Linked DNA regions of Homo sapiens: regions 1 and 3 are each linked to region 2. Evidence: fine-mapped expression QTL. A gene starts in region 2. Each other region holds a variant in brackets. All regions are shown on one strand. Distances are from middle to middle.

The links. PIP is the estimated chance that this variant, and not a neighbour inherited with it, causes the effect.
Region 1: its variant is the best candidate, but not a certain one, in a credible set for the expression of MUTYH in whole blood (TOPMed, PIP 0.85).
Region 3: its variant is the best candidate, but not a certain one, in a credible set for the expression of MUTYH in T cells (TOPMed, PIP 0.74).

The regions. Positions count from the first base shown.
Region 1 is chr1:45,252,623-45,260,763 of GRCh38, forward strand. No RefSeq gene overlaps it. Among named protein-coding and RNA genes, the nearest start is that of LINC01144, 47 kb to the right of the region's middle. The variant A/G (reference allele first, on the strand shown) is at 4,152.
Region 2 is chr1:45,335,953-45,344,093 of GRCh38, forward strand. It overlaps MUTYH (mutY DNA glycosylase), which reads right to left and starts at 4,018. Exons shown (of 16, transcript NM_001048174.2): 1 at 3,947-4,018. It overlaps TOE1 (target of EGR1, exonuclease), which reads left to right and starts at 4,218. Exons shown (of 8, transcript NM_025077.4): 1 at 4,218-4,352; 2 at 5,121-5,263; 3 at 5,351-5,391; 4 at 5,521-5,617; 5 at 5,997-6,155; 6 at 6,432-6,691; 7 at 6,891-7,050; 8 at 7,130-8,021. The coding sequence starts at 4,301. The coding sequence ends at 7,750. It overlaps TESK2 (testis associated actin remodelling kinase 2), which reads right to left. Exons shown (of 11, transcript NM_007170.3): 11 at 7,931-8,141. RefSeq lists enhancers at 3,540-4,207, 4,208-4,876, 4,229-4,578, 4,877-5,543.
Region 3 is chr1:45,419,442-45,427,582 of GRCh38, forward strand. It overlaps TESK2 (testis associated actin remodelling kinase 2), which reads right to left. Exons shown (of 11, transcript NM_007170.3): 3 at 2,284-2,405. Among named protein-coding and RNA genes, the nearest start is that of TESK2, 68 kb to the right of the region's middle. The variant T/C (reference allele first, on the strand shown) is at 5,042.

The DNA of each region.
Region 1 (8,141 bases), 83 kb before region 2:
ACGTATCAAGTGAAATTTTACTGTGTATAGGGGTATGTAAATGTTGGTATATATATATATAAAGGTGTATAAAAATTGGATAGCAATGTTTATGAAAAGACCAACAAATTAAATCTCTTGTTTAGAGAAAATGCTTGTCAATTGTATCTGAATTAATAGCAAGGAATCTGTGATGAAACAGCAGAATCAAAGTTAGCACCATTTAACCTCTCTCCGCCTTTCAGAAGTTTGGAATGAAGATCTGCAGGGTCATTAACTTCTCTCTGTGGTAGCAGGATGGATGTGGTAGTCTCAAACCATCCATAATAGATGGGTGTCTGGTCTAGCCTTAGAAATCTACTCATATGATGATCGCTCCACAGCCTCCCTGGGCAGTTCTTAAGTGTTCTTAGAATTTTAATGTTTATTAAATCCAAACCTCATCAACTTATTTCCAAAGCCCAGACAATGGCAGACTGAATCTGTGGTAATTGATTAGTCACCTGTCCCTCCCTTGCCAGATTCTTCTCTTACATGCCAGGCACTTTCCAATGTCAAACTACTGCTTCCTTTTTCTCCTAATTGCCAGACTCTCTTCTGACTCTCAGTCTCCTCTAGACTCAATTCTGGGAGTGTTCCTGATTTTACTTGCTGGATTTTGAAACTTTACAATTACCTGTCTTACTTTTCTAAACAGCAATGCTTTAGGCATGAGATTAAAACTATTTAATTGCATATTACTGTACCTGGCTAAGGAAAATTAATGCCTTTTTTTTTTTTTTGAAACCGAGTCTTGCTCTGTCACCCAGGCTGGAGTGCAGTGGCGCGATCTCAGCTCACTGCAACCTCCGCCTCCCGGGTTCAAGCAATTCTCCTGCCTCAGCCTCCTGAGTAGCTGGGATTACAGGCACCCACCACCACACCCAGCTAATTTTTGTATTTTTAGTAGAGATGGGGTTTCACCATGTTGGTCAGGCTGGTCTCGAACCCCTGACCTTGTGATCCACCCACCTCGGCCTCCCAAAGTGCTGGGATTACAGGCGTGAGCCACCGCATCCGGCCAGTTGATGCCTATTTTGTAATGTTCCATTTATGAGAAATAACCTAGCTTTGAAACTTTTCACCTAGTGATGCTCACATTACCAATTTAGCCATTTTTACATCATTTTCAGCTATGTATTTCTTTTTTTCTTAAGTAGATTGACAAAGGAGACCAAACTTCCCTCAGGATGGTTTGGCCAATGTTTGGTTGAAGAGTCATGAAAAAAGCAATTCAATTTTAACAGTTCCTGCTCTGATCATTCATCCAAGAAATACTCACTTAGCTCCTATTGTGTTCCAAACACTGGTCCTGTAGCATTAATAAGACTCAAGACTCTGTCTTCCTGGAGCTCACTTCCTTGGTGAGGTGCCAGGCATTTTGATTAATAATAATAATAAAATGTAATAACCGCTTTAAGTGTCAGAGGAGCACAGTGGAAATCAGCTTGGTCCCAAACATTTCCTGAGTGACTGCGACTTCAGTCTGACTGGCAGGTACTATATTGAGCAGGGTGGGTGGGGATGGCGGGCTACAGAGATGAACCATAGGCCGGGTGCAGTGGCTTATGCACTTTGGGAGGCCGAGGTGGTGGATCACCTGAGGTCAGGAGTTTGAGACCAGCCTGGCCAACATAGTGAAACCCCGTCTCTACCAAAAATCCAAAAATTAACCAGGCATGGTGGCTCATGCCTGTAGTCCCAGCTACTCGGGAGGCTGGGGCAGGAGAATCACTTGAACCCAGGAGGCGGAGGTTGCAGTGAGCCGAGATCATGCCATTGCACTCTAGCCTAGGCGACAGGGTGAGACTACATCTCAAAAACAAACAAACAAACAGATGAACCGTATATGGTCCCTACCCTCAGGAACTTACAATCTAGTGAGGAAGACTGAATGGGGCTAGATGTTTTGAAGTTTACAAAGATAAAATGCTGGGCTGAATCTTGAAGGATAAGAAGATAGTGGGCAGACAGAGTTGGAAGAGGGAACTCTTCCAGACAAGGTAATAGCCTGAACAAAGATACAGAGGCATAAACCACAGGGTATGCTCAATGAACCAAAGGTCATTTGGCACTCATGAGGGTAGAGAACAAGTCTGGGAATGGTAAAAGTTGAAACCAAAGAGGGAAATAGAAGTCTTGAGAGAGGATTTAATATTATAGACATGGCAGTGGTGATATAGACAGACTTTATGTTTTAGAAAGATCACTCAGGTTTTGAGGTGGAGGGTGGGTTTTTGGCTTAGGTAAATGGATAGATTTGGTTTGATTCACTTAGCTAGAGAACACTGGAGGAGAAGATGTGGGTCATGCAGGGATTGATGGAGGGGACACAAAAAGTTCAGCTTAGGGTACATTGAATTTGAAGTGTCTCTGAAACATCACAGGGGAAACATTTTATAGGAGTTTGAATACATTAAGTAGCCAACCTGTCACAGCCTGATGGGCTCTTGCCTGCTGCACTGAGAACAGCAGATAATGCTGAAAAGAAAGAGTTTAATATCACAGGACCAGCCAAGCAGGACAGGAGGCATTTCTCAAATTCATGTCCCCAACAATTTGGAGGCTAGGGTGTTAAGGGCATTTTGGCAGACAGGGGTCTAGGGAACTGAAACTATCGATTGGCTGGGGATAAAGTCACAAGAGTGTTTAAATTGTCTTTGCACAGTCTAATCAGTTCCAGGGAGGGGGGCATCTAAGGACCAGGTAGCATCTCTTGTGTTGCCAAAATGCTAAATCTGAAAAATATCTCAAAGACTAGTTCTTTAGGTTTTACAATAGTGATGTTAATTCATTTGAATAGTTGGGAAAGTTACAAATCTTGTGACCCCCAGTTACATGACTCTGGGATAGCAAAAGCAGCTTATAGAAAAGCAAGCTTGGCTGGGTACAGTGGCTCACACTTGTAATCCCAGCACTTCGGGAGGCTGAGGTGGGTGGATCACCTGAGGTCAGGAGTTTGAGACCAGCCTAGCCAACATGGTAAAACTCCATCTCTACTAAAAACACAAAATTAGCCGGGTGTGGTGGCGCATACCTATAATCCCAGCTACTTGGGAGGCTGAGGCAGGAGAATCTCTTGAACCAGGGAGGCGGAGGTTGCAGTGAGCCGAGACTGTGCCACAGGACTACAGCCTGGACAACAAGAGCAAAATTCCATCTCAAAAAAGAAAAGAAAGTTAAACAATGACAGGTGATTGTTTATGCCTATTCTATAGCAAAGTTCAAGTCCCTACCATGATTCTAATCTTGTTTTATGAAAGCATCTTCAATCTCCAAACATGGAAGGGGGTCAGTTTTCCTTACCTCAAAGTTTAGCTATAAACTAAATTCCTTTCACAGTTATCTTGGCCTCTATACCAGAATAAGCAAAAAAGCAATTTAGCCTGTGAGATTAGAAGCAAGATGCAATTAGTCATGTTAGATTTCTCTCTCATTACTGGCCTGACATGGTAGTTCACGCCTGTAATCCCAGCACTTTGGGAAGCTGAGGCAGGCGGATCACTTGAGGTCAGGAGTTTGAGATCAGCCTGGCCAACATGGCGAAACACTGTCTCTACTTAAAAAAAAATACAAAAATTAGCTGAGCACGGTGGTGTGCAACTGTAATCCCATCTACTCAGGACACTGAGGCAGGAGAATTGCTTGAACACAGTAGGCAGAGGTCACAGTGAACCAAGATTACACCACTGCACTCCAACCTGGGTAACAGAACAAGACCCTGTCTCAAAAAAAAAAAAAAAAAAAAAAAAAGATTTATCTCTCATTACTTATAATTCTGCAAGGGTGGTTTCAGATGCAGGGAGTGATCAGGACCTGGGAAGATTTGTGAGTCATCAACTTATAGATGGTAGTTAAAACCAAGGGAAGTGATAAGGCCAAATATACCCAGACTCTAAAATATTAATGGATTAAAAAGTAATGCCAATTTCTCTAGGACAAACTTCTGGTGAATAGTGAATAACCTACGTTCCAATAATATAATTTCTTCCCATGGTATTTTTTTTTGGCGGGGGTGGGGGGTATAGGGTTTCACTCCTATCACCCAGGCTGGAGTGCAGTGGCATGATCTTGGCTCACTGCAACCTCTGCCTCCCAGGCTCAAGTGATCCTTTCACCTCAGCCTCCCAAGT[A/G]TCTGGGACTACAGGCACCCACCACTGCACCTAGTTAATTTTTGTTTTTATAGAGACAGGGTTTTGCCATGTTGCCCAGGCTGGGATTAAACTCCTGAGCTCGAGTGATCCACCTGCCTTGGTGTCCCAAAGTGCTGGGATTACAGGCATGAGCCACTGCACCTGCACACTCCCCCATGGTATTTAATAAAGCTTCATTTAGTTTTCCATTTCATTTTTTATTCCATTTAAAAATTTTTAAATGCAACAAGAGAGGAGAGGTGGAGGACAACTATATAGTAAGGAAACCTGTCAAATACTAACTCAGCTTGGTTATCAAGGTTAACATCATCACTGACAGGTCATGTGATATGGTTTGGATCTGTGTCCCGGCCCAAGTCTCATGTTGAATTGTAATCCCCAATGTTGGAGGTGGTGCCTGGTGGGAGGTGATTATATGATGGGGGTGAACTTCTTGTGAGTGGTTTGGCACCATCATTTTGGTGCTGTCCTCACCATAGTAAGTGAGTTCTTGTGACACCTGGTCATTTAAAAGTGTGTGGCACCTCCTTCCCCTCTCTTTCTTGCTCCTGCTTTCACCATGTGACATGCTTGCTCTCCCTTCACCATCCACCATAATTGGAAGCTTTCTGAGGTCTCCCAAGAAGCTGCTATGCTTCCTGTACAGCCTGCAGAACAATGAGCCAATTAAACCTCTTTTCTTTATAAATTACCCAGTCTCAGGTATTTCTTTATAGCTGTGCAAGAATAGACTAATACAGAAAGTTGGTATTGAGGAGTGGGGCATTGCTATAAAGACACCTGAAAATGTGGAAGCAACTTTGGAATTGGGTAATGGGCAGAGGTTGGAAGAGTGTGGAGGGTTCAGAAGAAGAAAAGATGATGAGGGAAAATTTGGAACGTTCTAGAGACTTGTTGAATAGTTGTGACCAAAATGCTGATAGTGACATGGACAGATATTGGACAGGCTGAGGAGGTCTCAGATGGAAATATGGAACTTATCGTGAACTGGAGCAAAGGTCACTTTTGCTATGCTTTAGCAAAGAGCTTGGTTGGATTGTGCCCCTGCCCTAGGGATCTATGGAATTTTGAACTTGAAAGAGATGATTTAGGGTATCTGGTGGAAGAAAGTTCTAAGCAGAAAAGTGTTTGAGACGTGGCCTGGCTGCTTCTAACAACCTATAGCTCATATGTATGAACAAAGAAATGACCTGAAACTAAAACTTATATTTAAAGGGGAAGCAGAGCATTAAAATTTGGAACATTTGCAGCCTGGCCATGTGGTAGAAAAGAAAGGCCCATTTTCAGGAAAGGAATTCAAGCAGGCTGCAGAAATTTTCATAAGTAAAGAGGAGCAAAGTGATAATATCCAAGACAATGGGGGAAGAGCTTCAAAGGCATTTCAGAGACCTTCAAGGCATCCCCTCCCATCACAGGCCTGGAGGTCTAGGAGGACAAAATGGTTTGTGGGCCAGGCACAGGACAGCCTTGGGACACTGCTGCCTGTGTGCCAGCCACTCTAACTCTAGCTGTGGCTAAAAAGGGCCCAAGTACAGCTTGGGCCACTGCTTCAGAGAGTGCAAGTAATAAGCCTTGACAGTTTGCACATGGTGTTAAGCCTACAGGTGCACAGAGTACACAAGTTGAGGCTTGGGAGCCTCCGCCTAGATTTCAGAGGATGTATGGAAAACCCTGTATGTCCAGGCAGAAGCCTGCTGCAGGAGTGGAGCCCTCATGATGAACCTCTTCTAGGGTGATGCAGAGGGAAAATATGAGGTTGGACCCCACACACAGAGTCCCCACTGAGGCACTGCCTAGTGGAGCTGTGAGAAGAGGGTTATCATCCTCCAGACCCTGGAATGGAAGATCCACTGGCAGCTTGCACCCTGTGCCTGGAAAGCCATAGGCACTCAATGCCAGCCCCTGAGAGCAGTTGTTCTGGGGGCTGAACCAGCAAAGCCACAGGAGCAGAGCTTCCCAAGGCCTTGGGAGCCCCTTCCCTTGCATCAGAGTGCCCTGGATGTGAGACATGAATTCGAAGGAGATTATTTTTGAGCTTTAAGATTTAATGGTTGCCCTGCTGGGTTTTGGACTTGCATGGTGCCTGTAGCCCCTTTCTTTTGGCTGATTTCTCCTTTTTGAAATAGGAGTATTTACCCCAGGGGTGTTCAATCTTTTGGCTTCCCTGAGCCACAGTGGAAGAAGAATAGTCTTGGTCCACATATAAAATACACTAACACTAACGAGAGCTGATAAGCTAAAAAAAAATTGCAAAACATATCTCATAGTGTTTTAAGAAACTTGTGTTGAGCCATGTCCAAAGCTGTCCTGGGCTGCATGTGGCCCATGGGCCATGAGTTGGACAAGCTTGATTTACACAACAGCTATACCCCCACTGTCTCTGGAAGTAACTAACTTGTTTTTGATTTTACGGACTCATAGGTGGAAGGGACTTCCCGTTTCAGATGAGACTTTGGACTTTGGACTTTGGACTTTTGGGTTAATGCTAGAATAAGTTAAAATTTTGGGGGACTGTTGGAACGCATGGTTGTACCTTGAAATGTGAAAATGACATGAGATTTGGGAGGGGCTGGGGGTAGAATGATATGGTTTGGATCTGTGTTCCTGTCCAACTCTCATGTCAAATTGTAATCCGCAATGTTGGAGGTGGGGCCTGGTGGAAGGTAATTGAATCATGAGAGTGTTTCTCATGGATGGCTTAATACCATCCCCCTGGTTGCTGTTCTCATGATAGTGAGTGAGATCTCATGAGATCTGGTTGTTTAAAAGTGTGTAGCACCTTCCCCCTCTCTCTCTTCCTCTTGGTCTGGCCATGTGAGATGCCTTGCTTCACCTTCACCTTCCACCATGATTATAAGTTTCCTGAGGCCTCTCCAGAAGCTGCCATGCTTCCTATACAGTCTGCAGAACCATCAGCCAATTAAACCTCATTTCTTTATAAATTACCCAGTCTCTGGTATTTCTTCATAGCAGTGTGAGAGAAGACTAATACCTCATGTTAATGGCAATGTACCCTTGATATTGAAACTGAGGACAAACCCAATTAGGCCCACCAAATTTAACTTACCTTACTTGTCTTTATTAATTTGCTTTTAGTTGATTTTAAAACCTATATAGCTAAAAGTCACATTGCTAAGTAATATATAACTAAATTTCCACTAGCTTTCTTGTAGATAACATTTCTGATGTATAGATCACCATGGTAATGGTTGCTTAAGTTGTTTTTCAGGAACTTAGAGAGTCAGTTCTTGTCCAGTTCAAGCCAGCTGAGACCACCAACCTTTCAACTGGGCCTGTGTGAGCATCTGATGGGTCACCTTTTGATGTCAGAGGGCCAAAAACTCCACCCTCAGATCATGCTAATGCTGTAATTTTCTGAACATATATTCTATGAAGAGCCATGAAGTCTGTTATGCTTGCACAGATGACCAATTACCTCAGTTTTCCTTACCACGATCACCTTTCCCCATGCTTTGGACCATCTTGCTCCTCTATTCTATAAATATCCCTAAAATTCCATCTTCAGGGAGGCAGATTTGAGACCTGTTTTCCCATATCCTTGTTTGGCTGCCTCATGAATAAACTCTTCCTCTGCAGCAAAACACATCATCTCAGTGATTGACATACTGCATGACAGGAAGAAGAAGCCTGGTTCAGTAACAATATGATGGGATGAGAATGGTATTTCACCTCTGTGATTTTTTCCAAAACCTATGACCCCAGTCTAACCATGAGAAAAACACTGGACAAATACGGACATTTGCAAAAACAAACAAACCCTGGCCAGTGCTTCTCAAAACTGTCAAAGTCATCAAGGACAACAAAGTATGAGAAACTATCACAGACCAGAAGAAGCTAGGGAGACATGATGACAGAATGTAATGTGGTGTCCTGAAGAGGATCCTCAAACAGCAAATGGACTTTGGGGGGAAAACTGGTGAAATGCTAATAAAGTGTTTAATTTATAGT
Region 2 (8,141 bases):
TTATCTGCCTAAAGTCCAAACTCACTAAAAAGAATACTTGTTTTTTCTTCCCCTCCCAATAAGACTAACATGTAACCACACCTGAACAAACCCTTTCACAGGTATTGTGTACCTCAGGATCACTCAAATTCCAAAGAGAACTATTAACAAGTCAACCTCTGTCCCCATTCCATTCTCTCTAGTAATCCTTTATTGCCCTTCAACAGAATCTCCTTCTGGCCAAAGTTCGGTTTATTTAAAAACAAATAGAGCTGGACATGCTGGCTCAGGCCTGTAATCCCAGCACTTTGGGAGGCCAAGGCAGGAGGATTACTTGAGCCCAGGAGTTCGAGATTAGGCTTGCAACATAGCAAGACCCCGTCTCTACAAAAACAGAAAAACAGAATTTCTCTTCTACCCCTTGTCAGGCCTCTGAGCCCAAGCTAAGCCATCATATCCTCAGTAACCTGCACTTATACATCCAGATGGCCTGAAGCAACTGAAGATCTACAAAAGAAGTGAAAATAGCCTTAACTGATCACATTCCACCACTGTGATTTGTTTCTGCCCCACGCTAACTGATCAATGTACTTGGTAATCTCCCCCCCACCCTTAAGAAGGTTCTTTATAATCTCCCCACCCTTGAGAATGTACTTTGTGAGATCCACCCCCTGCCCCCAAAACATTGCTCTTAACTCCAATGCCTATCCCAAAACCTATAAGAACTAATGATAATTCCACCACCCTTTGCTGACTCCTTTTTTTCAGACTCAGCCTGTCTGCACCCAGGTGAAATAAACAGCCTTGTTGCTCAGACAAAGCCTGTTTGGTGGTCTCTTCACATGGACACACGTGAGACACCCCTCCCATAATCTGTTTTGCCAGATGGTATATAAACTCACGAACTCTGTAGGGAGATGGGTAATCACTTTATGGTTCTCCCAATGTGCATGTTAATAAATTTGTATGCCTTTTCTCCAGTTAACCTGCCTTTTGTGAGCTGATTTTTCAGCAGATCTTCAGAGGGCAAAGGGAAAGATTTTCCCCTTGGCTCGTAACACAATCAAATCCCACCCTCCTTCCCTTCATAGCCAAACTTCCTTCACCAAACCTGCTTACTTCCACATTCATTCTACAATCTATTCTCCAAAGAGCAAAGGAATCTTTTCCAGATCACGTCACTTCCTTCCTTATAACCTTCAATGGTTTCCCATTCTTTTTTTTTTTTTTGGGATGGGGTCTCACTCTGTCACCCAGGCTGGAGTGCAGTGGTGTGATCTTGGCTCACTGCAACCTCTGCTTCCTCGGCTCAAGCAATCCTCCCACCCCAATACCCCACCCCAACTCCAAGCAGCTGGGACCACAGGCGCACACCACCACCACATCCAGCTAATTTTTGTATTTTTGTTAGAGACAGGGTTTCACCATGTTGCCCAGGCTAGTCTCCACCTCCAGAGCTCAAGCAATCAACCCGCCTCGGCCTCCCAAAGTGCTGGGATACAGGCATGAGCCACGGCGCCTGGTGACACCCCATTATATTCTTTTATTTTCTTTCTTTTCTCTTTTTTTCTCCCTCCCTCTTTCCTTCCTTCCTTTTTTCCTTTTTCTTTCTTTTTTAAATACTGTAGGCCTTTACTATGGGTCATTAAATTCTTGAGCAAGCTGGTTGTGGTGGCTCAACACTGTAATCCTGCTACTCTGGAGGCTGAAGTGAAGAACAGCTTGAGCCCAGAAGGTCGAGGCTGCAGTGAGCTATGATTGTGCCACTGCACTCCACCCTGGGCTCAGCAAGACCTTGTCTCTTAAAGAAAAAAAAAGATTGAGCAAATATTTATAGAGCCCCCTAATATGTGCCAAGCAGTTTTAGGCACTTGGCATACTTCAGTAAATAAAACATCAAAAGTTCCTGCCCTCAGGGAGCTTATATTCTAATGGGGACAGAAAAGGAATAATGAACATAAGTAAATTCCATAAGATGTTAGGTGATAAATATTAGCATAAAAAGCAAAAATTAGACCAAGAGGGGAAAAAAAAGAGTGCCAAGGTGGGGTTTAATGTTGCAATTTTAAAGACTGTGGTCAAGGTAGACCCAAAGCATTCTAAGTGAGTGCAAAGGCCCCAAGGAGGGTGCCTGGTATGTCTGTGGTACAGTAAGTAGGTCAATGTGGTTAGAATGGAATGAGATGGGACTGAGTGGTAGAAGAGGTCAGAGAAGTAAACCAGATGAGGTGGGGAGAGGAGGGTCACAAAGTACCTTATAGGCCATTGGAGGGATTTGGCTGCCACACCCTTGCTCTTAGAAGGCAGTCCTCTTACTACAGCCTTGCAGGTCCAGTGATCCGGGCACCATCCGCCTCATCCCCTCACTATGCTCTAGCCAAGGTTGACTGAATTTAGTTGCTTAAACACCTCAAGTGTGTCTGCCCACCTTGGGGCCTCACACAATCCATTTCCTCTGTTTGGACTCTTTTATGCTTTTACCTAACACCTTATCATTTTTCAAGTCTTGACTGAAATGTCCAAATCAGGTCCCCTCATCTTATCCTATCACATATTTCTGCCTTGTAGCTCTTACCTAATGTAATTTTACATTACTTTGATTCTTTCCATCAGTGTGTACTTCCTGAATTTGACTGTAAAAAACGACTTGAGTGCAAGGACTGATTCTCTTGTTGATTGGTGTGTGTCCAAAGTCAGTGCCAGGTAAACTGTACACAATAGATACCTGTTAAATGAATTAATGGGATGGGGGATAGTCAAAAGAGTTTCCCTTTTTTAGGATAGGAGAAATCCAAAGAGTTTTTTTATTTTTGTTTTTTTTTTGTTTGTTTGTTTTGTTTTTAGAGACAGTGTGTCCCTCACTTTGCTGCTCTGCCACTCAGGCTGGAGTGCAATAAGAACATGGCTCACTGCAGCCTCGACCTCCTGGGCTCAAGCCATCCTCTCACCTCAGCCTCCTGTAGCTGGGACTACAGGTGCGCACCACCATGCCCAACTAATTTTTAATTTTCTTTTTGTAGAGACAAGGTTTCACTATGTTGCCCAGGCTAGTCTTGAACTCCTAGGGTCAAGCGATCCTCCCACCTTGGCCTCCTAAGATGATTACAGGCCATAAGCCACTGCGCCCGGCCCAAGCAGTTCTGAATAATGATGAAATGGGCTCAGTTGAGAGAAGCTGAAGATTAACTATAAACAATGAGTAACAAAGGAGCACTGGAAGGCAGAGGTGGATGGGAATCGTAGTGTTTACGGAGGGACTAGTCTCCAATAGGAATTTTTTTTTTTTTTTTTTTTTTGAGACGGAGTTTCGCTCTTGTTGCCTAGGCTGAAGTGCAAAATGGCGTGATCTCGGCTCACCGCAACCTCTGCCTCCCAGGTTCAAGCGATTCTCCTGCCTCAGCCTCCCAAGTAGTGGGATTACAGGCGCCCGCACCATACCCAGCTAATTTTTTTTGTACTTTTAGTAGAGACGGGGTTTCACCATGTTGGCCAGGCTGGTTTTGAACTCCGGACCTCAGGTAATCCGCCCGCCTCGGCCTCCCAAAGTGCTGGGATTACAGGCGTGAGCCACCGCGCCCGGCCTAGGAACCTCTTTCAAATTCAATCACCCTCTAGGTCGACTATACCGCCTAGCTGCTTCACAATTTGTCCCTTCCTCGCCATCCATACTGCCAGCCTTAATTCAAGTTCACATTATCACTTGATTGGATTATTACAAAAGCTTCCCTACCAATCGGTCGCTCTTACACCCTGGGCAGCCTCCTCCGATGGCCCACTCCCCGCCTCTTTCACTTTCTGGAGATCACTGAGCTCTCCATCCTCTCTGGGAATTTACCGATGCCCAGAACGCCCTTCTTTCCCCCACACGACCCTCTCCTAGTCTAACTCCTGGGCGTGCTTTAAGCTCAGCTCAGGCAGCGTCACCTTCTCTGGAAAGCCCAAACCCAGCCACCCCACTACCCGCTACCCGCGGCCCACGCTGATGAAGACAGCAGAACACGGAGGCCCCGCGTTCCCGCCGCGAGAGCAGGAGAGAAAGATTACCTCCCGCGAGCTCTAGCGCGCCCGGCTTTCCGGCGCACTCCAGGGGGCGTGGCTCGGGTCCACCCGGGCTGCGAGCCGGCAGCACAGGCCAATAGGCAATTAGCGCGCGCCAGGCTGCCTTCCCCGCGCCGGACCCGGGACGTCTGAACGGAAGTTCGACCCATCGGCGACCCGACGGCGAGACCCCGCCCCATCCCCGACTGCCTGAACCGCGCCAGGAGACGGACCGCAAGTCCAGCGTACCCACAGACGACTCAGGCGGGAGACGAGCGGTGTCATGGCCGCCGACAGTGACGATGGCGCAGTTTCAGCTCCCGCAGCTTCCGACGGTGAGCGGCTTCCCAGAGGTAGCCTTCAAAGCCTCTGCGCTCTGGGAGAGGGGAAGGCCTCGGGCTCATAGTTCTAGAGGCTCCTCAAGCTTCAGAGGACTGCTCCTTCCGCCTGAACTAGCCACGAGGAGACTACAAGTTCCGTTGTACACCGCGGCTCCGGCTGCAAAAGCCTGGAGCGTTGGGAGCATGGGGCTGATGGAGGCATGGCGGGAGATGTAGTCTGGAGCTCATAACGGTTAGTAGTAATAGTTGTGATTCAGTTCAGTGGAGTGGATTGAGCGTTGTGATCCAAAGGAAGGTAGGACGTATTGGGAGCTCTGGTGTGGGGCACTGCCAGGCTCTGGGGCTTACTGGGAGCTGTTGCTTGTGGCGCTGGGGCACCATGAGAACAGTAGTATGGATCCCTGTGGGATATTAAGGGAGCTGAGATCCTCAAGCCCTACAAAATGTTTCCTGCAGGACATGGGAAAAAAGAATCAAAGGTCGTCTAGTCCAACTTTCTCCTCTACAGATTGTGAAAGCGAGGTGGGAAGTAATTTACCCAGGCTCATACAAGCCAGTAGAAGACTCAGGCTTCCTCTCCCCAAATTCAGGGCATTCTCCACTCCAAGGCCTGTGTGTAGAACACGTGGGTTACAAAGGCTTGTGGGAAAAGCTACCAATGGAAACTACCCCCCTTACCACCATCACCGTGGCCTAGCTTGGTGTCTGTTCCCCTGGGCTCTTTCCTTAAGCATGAACATCCATCACCCTCCTAACCCCCAGGTGGTGTCAGCAAAAGCACAACATCTGGGGAGGAGCTAGTAGTCCAGGTTCCCGTAGTGGATGTGCAAAGCAACAACTTCAAGGAGATGTGGCCATCCCTCCTGCTAGCCATAAAGACAGCTAATTTCGTGGCTGTGGACACGGTGAGAGTTGGGAAACAAGGAGGGCAGGTGGTTGTGAAGGGGCTGGTGCTAGAGGCCTGTCACAACTCTCCCTTTACCTACCCACAGGAGCTGAGTGGGCTTGGGGACAGGAAGAGTTTGCTGAACCAGTAAGTATAAGCCCTTTTCTCTTTAGTGCCAGCCCTCAACTGTGGAGTGGGGGGGTCACAGACCTGGGTGGTTTGGGTCCTTCATAAGGCTAACTCCTAGCCACAGCAACCCCCATACCCAACCCCAAGGTGCATTGAGGAACGTTACAAGGCCGTGTGTCATGCTGCCAGGACCCGTTCTATCCTTTCCCTGGGCCTCGCCTGCTTCAAGCGGCAGCCAGACAAGGTATGAGCTGATCTCACCCCAATCCTAGGTGTGGCTGTGGGGTGGAGGGTAGAGAGATTCTAGGGAACATCAGATAGGAAGCATTTCTCTCCCAAATCTTTTTTTTTGACTTGATAGTTTTTTTTTTTTTATTTGAATAGGTTTATGGGGAACAGGTGGTGTTTGGTTAAATGAGTAAGTTCTTTAGTGGCAATTTCTGAGATTTTGGTGCACCTATCACCCAGTGTACACTGTGCCCAATGCGTAGTCTTTTATCCCTCACCTGCCTCCATCCTTTCCCCCCTGAGTCCCCAGAGTCCATTGTATCATTCTTAAGCTTTTGCATCCTCCTAGCTTGGCTCTCTGAAATCTTGATATAGCAGACTTCTCTTTCTCCCAGGGTGAACATTCCTATCTGGCTCAAGTGTTCAATCTCACTCTGCTGTGCATGGAGGAGTATGTCATAGAACCAAAGTCTGTGCAGTTCCTGATACAGCATGGCTTCAACTTCAACCAGCAGTATGCCCAAGGCATCCCCTACCATAAGGGCAATGACAAGGTAGGCCTCTAGCCTCCCTAGCCTTGAGTCTGCCCTTTCTGTGACTTTATTTCTTCCTACCCTAGGCTGGATGTCTGGGGAGAATCTGCTTCTTAGGGAGTATGGGGAATCACTAGTGACAGGGCTTGGGAAACAAGACTGGTATGAGGAGGGTGGGCAGCATTGGGTAAGGTAGAGAGAGAGCGTTCCAAGTGGGGAAGTCTGGGATAAGTGCCCAGCAGAAGAGGCTCCCTGGGGGACTCTGTCCTCCTCATTGACCCCTTTACTTTCATCTAGGGTGATGAGAGCCAGAGCCAGTCAGTACGGACCCTATTCCTGGAGCTAATCCGAGCCCGCCGGCCCCTGGTGCTACACAATGGCCTTATAGACTTGGTGTTCCTGTACCAGAACTTCTATGCACACCTCCCTGAGAGTCTGGGAACCTTCACCGCTGACCTGTGTGAGATGTTCCCAGCAGGCATTTATGACACCAAATATGCTGCTGAGTTTCATGCCCGTTTCGTGGCCTCCTACTTAGAATATGCCTTCCGGAAATGGTGAGGAAATGGTTGAGGGAAAGGGGTGGGGCCTGATACGAGTTTATTTCATTCACTTAAGATATTTATTGAGCTCCTACCATGTGCCCAGGCAGTGTTTTAGGTGCTGAGGATTCAGCAGTGAACAAAACAGACCACAAAACCCTGCTCTTATGGAGCTTATATGCTAGTGGACCATTACCCTCTTGCGCTGTTGCAGTGAACGGGAAAATGGGAAGCAGCGGGCAGCTGGCAGCCCACACCTTACCCTGGAGTTCTGCAACTATCCTTCCAGCATGAGGGACCATATTGATTACCGCTGCTGCCTGCCCCCAGCAACCCACCGTCCTCATCCCACCAGCATCTGTGACAACTTCTCGGTGAGAGCACCCACCTGTTTCTTGGGAGGGAAGGTTCTGATGCCTGGAGCCTCTTTCTAAGCCTCTTTCCCACCCCTAGGCTTATGGCTGGTGCCCCCTGGGACCACAGTGTCCTCAGTCTCACGATATTGACCTTATCATTGACACTGATGAGGCTGCGGCAGAGGACAAGCGGCGACGGCGACGACGTAGGGAAAAACGGAAGAGGGCTTTATTGAACCTACCGGGGACACAGACCTCTGGGGAAGCTAAGGATGGTCCTCCCAAGAAGCAGGTCTGTGGGGATAGCATCAAGCCTGAAGAAACCGAGCAGGAGGTGGCTGCCGATGAAACTAGGAACCTGCCTCACTCCAAGCAAGGCAACAAAAATGACTTAGAGATGGGGATTAAGGCAGCAAGGCCTGAAATAGCTGATAGAGCTACCTCAGAAGTGCCAGGGAGCCAAGCCAGTCCTAACCCAGTGCCTGGGGATGGATTGCACCGGGCTGGTTTTGATGCCTTTATGACAGGTTATGTGATGGCCTATGTGGAAGTGAGCCAGGGACCGCAGCCCTGCAGCTCTGGACCCTGGCTCCCTGAATGCCACAATAAGGTATATTTGAGTGGCAAAGCTGTACCCCTCACAGTGGCCAAGAGCCAGTTCTCTCGTTCCTCCAAAGCCCACAATCAGAAGATGAAGCTCACTTGGGGCAGTAGCTGATGCAACTTCCACCTTGCTCTCAGGTGGAACAGAGGTATTTTGGGTCTCTCTAGCCTGAAATGTCATCCTCAACTGCTACTGAGTTTAGGGGAGGGGGAATGTCTTGACAGACATCACTGCATTGCCCTGGACCGCCTCCTTTATCCCAGTGTTTGAGGTACAAGTAAGAAGGCTGACCAGCACCTGTAACACTGACTTTATTTTTAAGTCTGAAAATGTCTTGGGAAAGTTTTACAAAAAAAAAAATCAACAGAAGCAAGTTATGAAAATATTTGACCAGCTTCATCTTTGGTTATTTCTTATTGCAGCTCTGTAAGGACAGACTGTTCCCAAAGCTCCAGCCATGGCAGGAAGGGAAGCAAATCAGTCCCTGTATAAACCATTTAACCAA
Region 3 (8,141 bases), 83 kb after region 2:
ATTTTATATATATCTTGATATCTTTCTGATGTCTGAATATATCACCAGGCATATAGTAGATGCTCAAAAAATGTGTTAATCTGGCCAGGTGCGGTGGCTCACACCTGTAATCCCAGCACTTTGGGAGGCCGAAGCAGGTGGATTACCTGAGGTCAGGAGTTCAAGACAAGCCTGGCCAACGTGGTAAAACCCCGTCTCTACTAAAAATACAAAAATTAGCCGGGTGTGATGGCGAGTGTCTGTAATCCCAGCTACTTGGGAGGCTGAGGCAGGAGAATCACTTGAACCCAGGAGGTGGAGGTTGCAGAGAGCTGAGATCGAGCCATTGCACTCCAGCCTGGGCGACAAGAGTGAAACTCCGTCTCAAAAAAAAAGTGTTAATTTGACTTATAAATTTGAAAGAAAGTCACCACAATAAAAATACTGGCTGAATATTTTTGTAGTAGACTAGGAAGCCAATAATTCTATATAAGGATAAAAAGTTTCAAGTAAGCAGTATAATTTAATTCCATAATTTAATACCATTGACCAAACATGTAAGTCATACTTAAGCCATATGAGTTCTCTCTAGCCTAATATAAACATACAAAAAATAGCAATAAATGACCCTAAGTAAATAGTACTTTAAACTTTACAAAGCATCCTGCACATAAACCCTAACTAAATATACATTGAATTAAATTGTCTTATTTGGTCTCATTTAAAAATATACTGGCCAGGTGTGGTGGATCACACCTGTAATCCCAGCCTGAACAACACAGTGAGACCTTATCTCATTTAAGAAAAATTTTTTTTAACAAAATCATTTTTGTTTTTAATATAGGGTCTCACTCTGTCACTCAGGCTGGAGTGCAGTGCTGCAATCATGGCTCACTGTAGCTGTGAACTATTGGCTCAAGAGATCCTCCCACCTCAGCCTCCCGAGTAGCTGAAACTACAGGCACATGCCATTATACCTGGCTAATTTTTTTTTGTTGTTTGTTGTTGTTGTTGTTTGTAGAGATGGGGTTTCACCATGTTGCCCAGGCTGGTCTTAAACTCCTAGGCTCAAGAGATCCACCCACCTTGGCCTCCCAAAGTACTGAGATTACAGGCATGAGCCATCATGCCTGGCCAAATAAAATTTTTTTTTTTTTTTTTTTTTGAGACGGAGTCTTGCTCTGTCACCCTGGCTGGAGTGCAGTAGTGCAATCTCAGCTCACTGCACTAGGTTCCCAGGGGGAACCTCCACTTCCCGGGTTCAAGCAATTCTCCTGCCTCAGCCTCCCAAGTGGCTGGGACTATAGGCACGTGCCACCACGCCCGGCTAACTGTTTTTTTGTATTTTTAGTAGAGATGGGGTTTCACCATGTTAGCCAGGATGGTCTCAATCTCCTGACCTCATGATCCGCCTGCCTCGGCCTCCCAAAGTGCTGGGATTACAGGCGTGAGCCATCGCGCCCAGCCAAATTTTTTTTAAAAAGAAAATATACTTGCCTGACTAAAATATCAAAATAATTAAAGCAAGAAAGATTCAGATACGGATTATTAAAAAGTGACAATTACATAAACTTATAAAAATAATTGTCCACTTTGGGAGGCCAAGGAGGGTGAATTGCTTGAGCCCAGGAACTTGAGACCAGCCTGGGCAAATGGTGGAACTCTGACTTTACGAAAAATGTGAAAATTAGCTGGATGTGGTGGTGCGCCTGTAGTTCCAGCTGCTCAGGAGTCTGAGGTGGGGAAGCTCAACTGGGCCCTGGAGGTCAAGGCTGCAGTGAACCATGATCATGCCACTATACTCCAGCCTGGGTGACAGAGTGAGACCCTATCTCAAAAAAATAACAATTCTCAAAGGCAAAATGTGTCTCCTCAAGTGAGTGCTAAAAGTTAAGGATAGATAACTTGAGGGTGTAATTTTACATTTATTGCCACTCATTGATTTAATTACAATTTCCCAAAAAGTAATCAGGAAAAGTAAATAACCACATAAAGACCAATCTCTCCTCTTTGATAAATTACCAGTCAGCAATAGAAAACAATTGTTCTAATGAGCTGCTACTAATGTTCTAATGAGAGTAAAGCAACTTAAGAGATAAAGGAAGTTGCTTTATTAAATGCAGTTAATTACCAATAAATTAAGTCTCAATGGGTAGAAAACGACCTAGAGTACCACTAAACCCCAGCAAGATAGATTCAGCATGATAAATCCTGAATCCCTCCTTTTTTTCCTATTAGTGCTATTCTAGCAAGCCTCCAATGTTTCAGTTTTCTCATTGATCAGAAGGAAGGAAAAGCCATTACCTAAGGATGTTGGGATGGGAGAGTCTATTCATGAGCTGTACTTCTTTCAGCATGTTTGCCCGGTTACTGCTCAATGTGTTCATCTTAAGAGCCATCACCTGACCAGAAGCTCGGTGTCGTACCTAGAATATTAAATAGAACAAGAAAAGAGGGTCAAGGGCAATAGTTATATGTGAGGTCAACATCTCCAAATGTACAATATGCCAAGATATTTTTGTGCCACTTTAGATAAAATATACATCTAATTACATTAAAGTATCACTTCCATGAATGAAGATGAATTATTCTACCCAAGAACAGTATTATTTCACATTGAGTTGGCCAGAAAAACACTGTTACTAACATCTCAAGAAAACATGTCTGATATACACCATGGAATACTATGCAGTCATAAAAAGGAATGAGGTCATGTCCTTTGCAGGGACATAAATGAAGCTGGAAGCCATCATCCTCAGCAAATTAACACAGGAACAGAAAACCAACACTGCATGTTTTGAACATTGAGAACACATGGACACAGAGAGGGAAACAACACGCACCAGGGCCTGTTAGCGGGTGGGGGGTGAAGGAAGGGAACTTAGAACTTAGTCAACAGGTGCAGCAAACCACCATGGCACAAACCTGCATGTTCTGCACATGTATCCCATGTTTTCTTTTTTTTAGAAGAAATAAAGAAAAAAATGAAGAAATAAATAAAAGAAATCATGTCTGGTTTGTTGCTGTTGTTGTTTTTGTTTGAGACAGGGTCTCACTGTGTCACCCAGACTGGAGTGTAGTGGCACAATCTCGGCTCACTGCAACCTCCACCTCCCAGGTTCAAGTGATTCTCCTGCCTCAGCCTCCTGAGTAGCTGGGATTACAGGCATGTGCCAACACACCCGGCTAATTTTTGTATTTTTAGTAGAGACAGGTTTTCACCATGTTGGCCAGGCTGGTCTCAAACTCTTGACCTCAGGTGATCTGCCTGCCTCGGCCTCCCAAAATGCTGGGATTACAGGTGTGAGCCACCATGCCCAGCCAATCATGTCTGGTTTTTTGTTGTTGTTGTTGTTGTTTTTGTTTTGAGACAGAGTCTTGCTCTGTCACCCAGGCTAGAGTGCAGTGGCGTGATCTCGGCTCACTGAAACCTCCACCTTCCGGGTTCAAGCAATTCTCCTGCCTAAGCCTCCCGAGTAGCTGCGATTACAAGCGCCTGCCACCGCGCCCAGCTAATTTTTGTATTTTTAGTAGAGACGGGGTTTCACCATGTTGGCCAGGCTGGTCTCGAACTCCTGACCTTGTGATCCACCAGCCTTGGCCTCCCAGCCACCGTGCCTGGCCTGTTTTTAATACCTTAGAAAAAAAAAATGAGGGAAAATTTTTAAGCTGATTCCTCATGGCTGACCTTGGTGAGTCTTAAGACACCAACAGAAAAGAGTCCCTTCTGTGGCATTCTAAGTGTGCAAAACGAAGATATATGCATGAGCCTTATGTAACACTTAATGAAACTGTCTTTATAAGATGCTAAACCCACATACTCAAAGTCTCCCCCAAGTACCATAAAAATCCATAGGCCGGGCACAGTGGCTCACGCCTGTAATCCCAGGACTTTGGGAGACCAAGGGGGACAGATCACGAGGTCACAAAATCGAGACCAGCCTGGCTAACATGGTGAAATCCCGTCTCTACTAAAAACACAAAAAATTAGCTGGGCGTGGTGGCGGGCACCTGTAGTCCCAGCTACTCGGGAGGCTGAGCCAGGAGAATGGCATGAGCCTGGGAGGCGGGGCCCGCAGTGAGTGGAGATTGTGCCACTGCACTCCAGCCTGGGTGACAGAGCGAGATTCCGTCTCGCGAAAAAAAAAAAAAAATCTATAAAAAAAAAAAATTTCATGCTAAATATAGAAAGAAGTCCGTGAACCTTTTAGAGCTAATATTGTAGTAACTCTACCCAAAGCACCTTATAATCATTTAAACACACTCAAGTTAAATACAACAAACATGGGCCACACCACTCACACTATTACCCATATGCACAGAGGAAAGTCTACTTCTAAAAGTATTCGCCCTCTATAGAACTCAATCTATTGTGCATGTGTAAATATTATTTATCATTTCAATGCACACTCCACAGGTTTCATAAACCATAACACTTTACTTGAGAAAGATTGTTTTCACCCTGTAAATGTGGTCTCATTGGTAGCAAAATAAGACCACCAGACAAAACATTTTGTGTGATTCAAAGAAGCTAAACTGAGATATGTGTGTTTCCTGCTTAGGAATTATGAATGAGGCAGTAGAAAAATCATGAAGTCACAAAGATCTTTCTCGTTAAAAAAATTTCATTTCATATCTTGCACAACAGGGACTTTACTATGCAAAAATGTCATCATCCTACGGACTTCAGGAGTATCATTTCAGTATGCTATACTCAACCAAATGGGAATTCCAAAAGAAAACATGACAACTTACTTAAACTCTTCAATATCCAAAAACTCCTTGAAATGACAATAGCTCCACAAGTTTATCATAGCTATTAATACAGGTCAGACATCACAGCTTATCTTAGAATTCAAACAGTGTTTCAGAGAGGCCAGGCAGAAGAGGGAAGGCTGTTGAGGGGGAGGCCGGGCCAAAACACAAAGAGCCACAGGAACCCTGATCGGAAAAACTAAGGCAGGCAGAACACTGGCTGCCTCTCCTCTCCTAGATCACTGAGTGAGATTTGGAACCCAGCTCTCTTCTCAGTGCATCAAGGATTCTGTTGTAATGTACCTCT[T/C]GACTGATGAAAGAGAAGTAGCTTTCCATTTCAGATCCTGCATGGATAAGTTAAAAGAAACATTTATAAACAAAGAGCTCACTGGTAGTATTTTTCCAACTCTATTTACAGAAGACATCTGTGTTTTAATAAGGACTCTCCAGCTGAAAGTCACTCTTCTTATTTTTCCATCATCTGAAAACTGTCACACTAAGATTTTAACAAAATGGCAAAACCCATGAAAAGATCATTCATCCTGACCAACCGGGATTTATCCCTGGGATGTAAGGATAGTTCAACATACGTAAATCAATCAATGTGATACATTATATCAACAGAATGAGGGACAAAAACCATATGATCATTTCAATTAATGCTGAAAAAGCATTTGATAAAATTCAACATCTCTTCATAATAAAAACCCTCAAAAAACTAGGTATAGAAGGAACATAGCTCAAAAAGCCATATATGACAGACCCAAAGCTAGTATCATACTTAATGAAGAAAAACTGAAAGCCTTTCCTCTGGGATATGGAACACAAAAAGGATCCCCACTTTTACCACTGTTATTTAACATAGTACTGGACACCCTAGCTAGAGCAATCAGACAAGAGAAAGAAATAAAGGGCATCCAAATTGGAAAGGAAGAAGCCAAATTATTCTTGTCTGCAGATGATTATGATCTTGTATTTGGAAAAACCTAAGACTACACTAAAAAAACTATTAGAACTGATAAATTCAGAAAAGTTACAGCATACAAAATCAACATACAAAAATCAGTAGCATTTCTATATGCCAACAGTGAACAATCTGAAAAAGAAACCAAAAAGTAATCCAATTTATAGTAGCTCCAAATAAAATTAAATACCTAGAAATTAAGTTAGCCAATGAATTAAAAGAGCTCTAAAAGGCCAGGCACAGTGGTTCACGCCTGTAATCCCAATACTTTGGGAGGCCAAGACAAAAGGATTGCTTGAGTCCAGGAGTTCGAGACCAGCCTGGGCAACATAGTGAGACACTATCTCTACAAAAAATACAAAAAAATTAACTGGGCTTGGTGGTTCAAGCCTGTGGTCCCAGCTAGTCGGGAAGCTGAGGTGGGAGGATTGCTTGAGCCCAGGAGGTCAAGGCTGCAGTGAGCTGTGATCGTGCCACTATACTCCAGCCTGGGTGACAGAGCAAGACTGTCTCAAAAACAAACAAAAAAGTTCTCTACAATGAAAGTTATAAAACATTGATGTAAGAAACTAAAGATACAAAAAAATGGAAAGATATTCCATGTTCATGAATTGCAACAATCGGTATTTTTAAAATTCCCATACTACTCAGATACTAAACTTTCTATGGAATCACAAAGACCCAGAATCGCCAAAGCCATCCTGAGGAAAAGAAAAAAAGCTGGGCCGGGTGCAGTAGCTTATGCCTGTAATCCCAGCACTTTGGGAGGCCGAGGTGGGTGGATCACCTGAAGTCAGGAGTTTGAGATCAGCCTGGCCAACATGGTGAAACCCTGTCTCTACTAAAAAAAAAAAATACAAAAACTAGCTGAGCGTGATGGCATGCCCCTGTAATCCCAGCTACTCGGGAGGCTGAGCAGGAGAATGGCTTGAACCCGGGAGGCAGAGGTTGCAGTGAGCCAAGATTGCACCACTGCACTCCAGCCTAGGTGACAGAGCTGAGACTTTGTCTCAAAAGAAAAAAAGAAAGAAACTGGAGGAATCACATTACCTGATTCAAATTATACCACAGAGCTATTGTAACCAAAATAACATGGTATTGGCATAAAAACAGAAACATAGACCAATGGAACAGAATAGAGAATCCAATAACAAATCCATAAATCTACAATAAACTCTCATTTTCAACAAAAGTACCAAGAACATACATTGGGGAAAGGACAGTCTCTTCAACAAATAGTGCTGGGAAAACTGTATAGTTACATGCAGAAGAATGAAACTAGACTCCTATCTCTAGCCATATGCAAAAATCTAATCAAAATGGATTAAAGATTTCGATCTAGGACCTCAAACTATGAAACTACTACAAGAAAACATCGGGGGAAACTCTCCCATTGGTCTGCAAAGATTGCTCGAGTAATACTCCAAAAGCACAGGCAACTAAAGCAAAAATGGACAAATGGGATCACATCCGGTTAAAAAGCTTCTGCACAGCAAATGAAACAAAGTGAAGAGTCAATCCATGGAATGGGAGAAAATATTTGCAAAATATCCATCTGACAAAGGATTAATAACCAGAATATATAAGAAGTTCAAACAACTCTATAGGAAAAAAAAATCTAACAATCAGATTTTTTAAATGGGCAAAAGATCTGAACAGACATTTCTCAAAAGAAGACATACGAACAGCAAACAGGTATATGTAAAGGTATTCAACATCACTGATCATCACAGAAATGCAAATCCAAACTACAATGAGATATCATCTCACCCTAGTTAAAATGGTTTTTATCCAAAAGAAGGGCAATAAAGAATTCTTGCAGGCTGGGCACGGTGGCTCACGCCTGTAATCCTAGCACTTTTGAGAGGCCGAGGTGGAGGATTACCTGAGGTCGGGAGTTGGAGACCAGCCTGGCCAACATGGTAAAACCCCGTCTCCACTAAAAATACAAAAATTAGCTGGGCATGGTAGTGCACGTCTGTAATTCCAGCTACTTGGGAGGCTGAGGCATGAGAATCACTTGAACCTGGGAGGCAGAGGTTGCAGTGAGCCAAGATCACGCCACTGCACTTCAGCCTCAGCAAGACTCTGTCTCAAAAAAAAAAAAAAAAAAAAAAAAAGAATTCTTGCAAAGATGTAGAGAAAGGGGTAAGCCTCGTGCACTGTTGGTAGGAATGTAAATTGGTATAGCCACTATGGAGAACAGTTTGGAGGTTCCTCAAAAAACTAAGAATAGAGCTACCATATGATCCAGCAATCCCACTGCTGGGTATATACCAAAAGAAGGGAAATCGGTATGTCAAATACATATCTGCACTTCCATGTTTATTGTAGCACTATTCACAATAGCCAAGATTTGGATGCAACCTAAGTGTCCATCAACAAACAAATGGATAAAGAAAATGTGGTACATACACACAATGGAGTACTATTCAGCCATAAG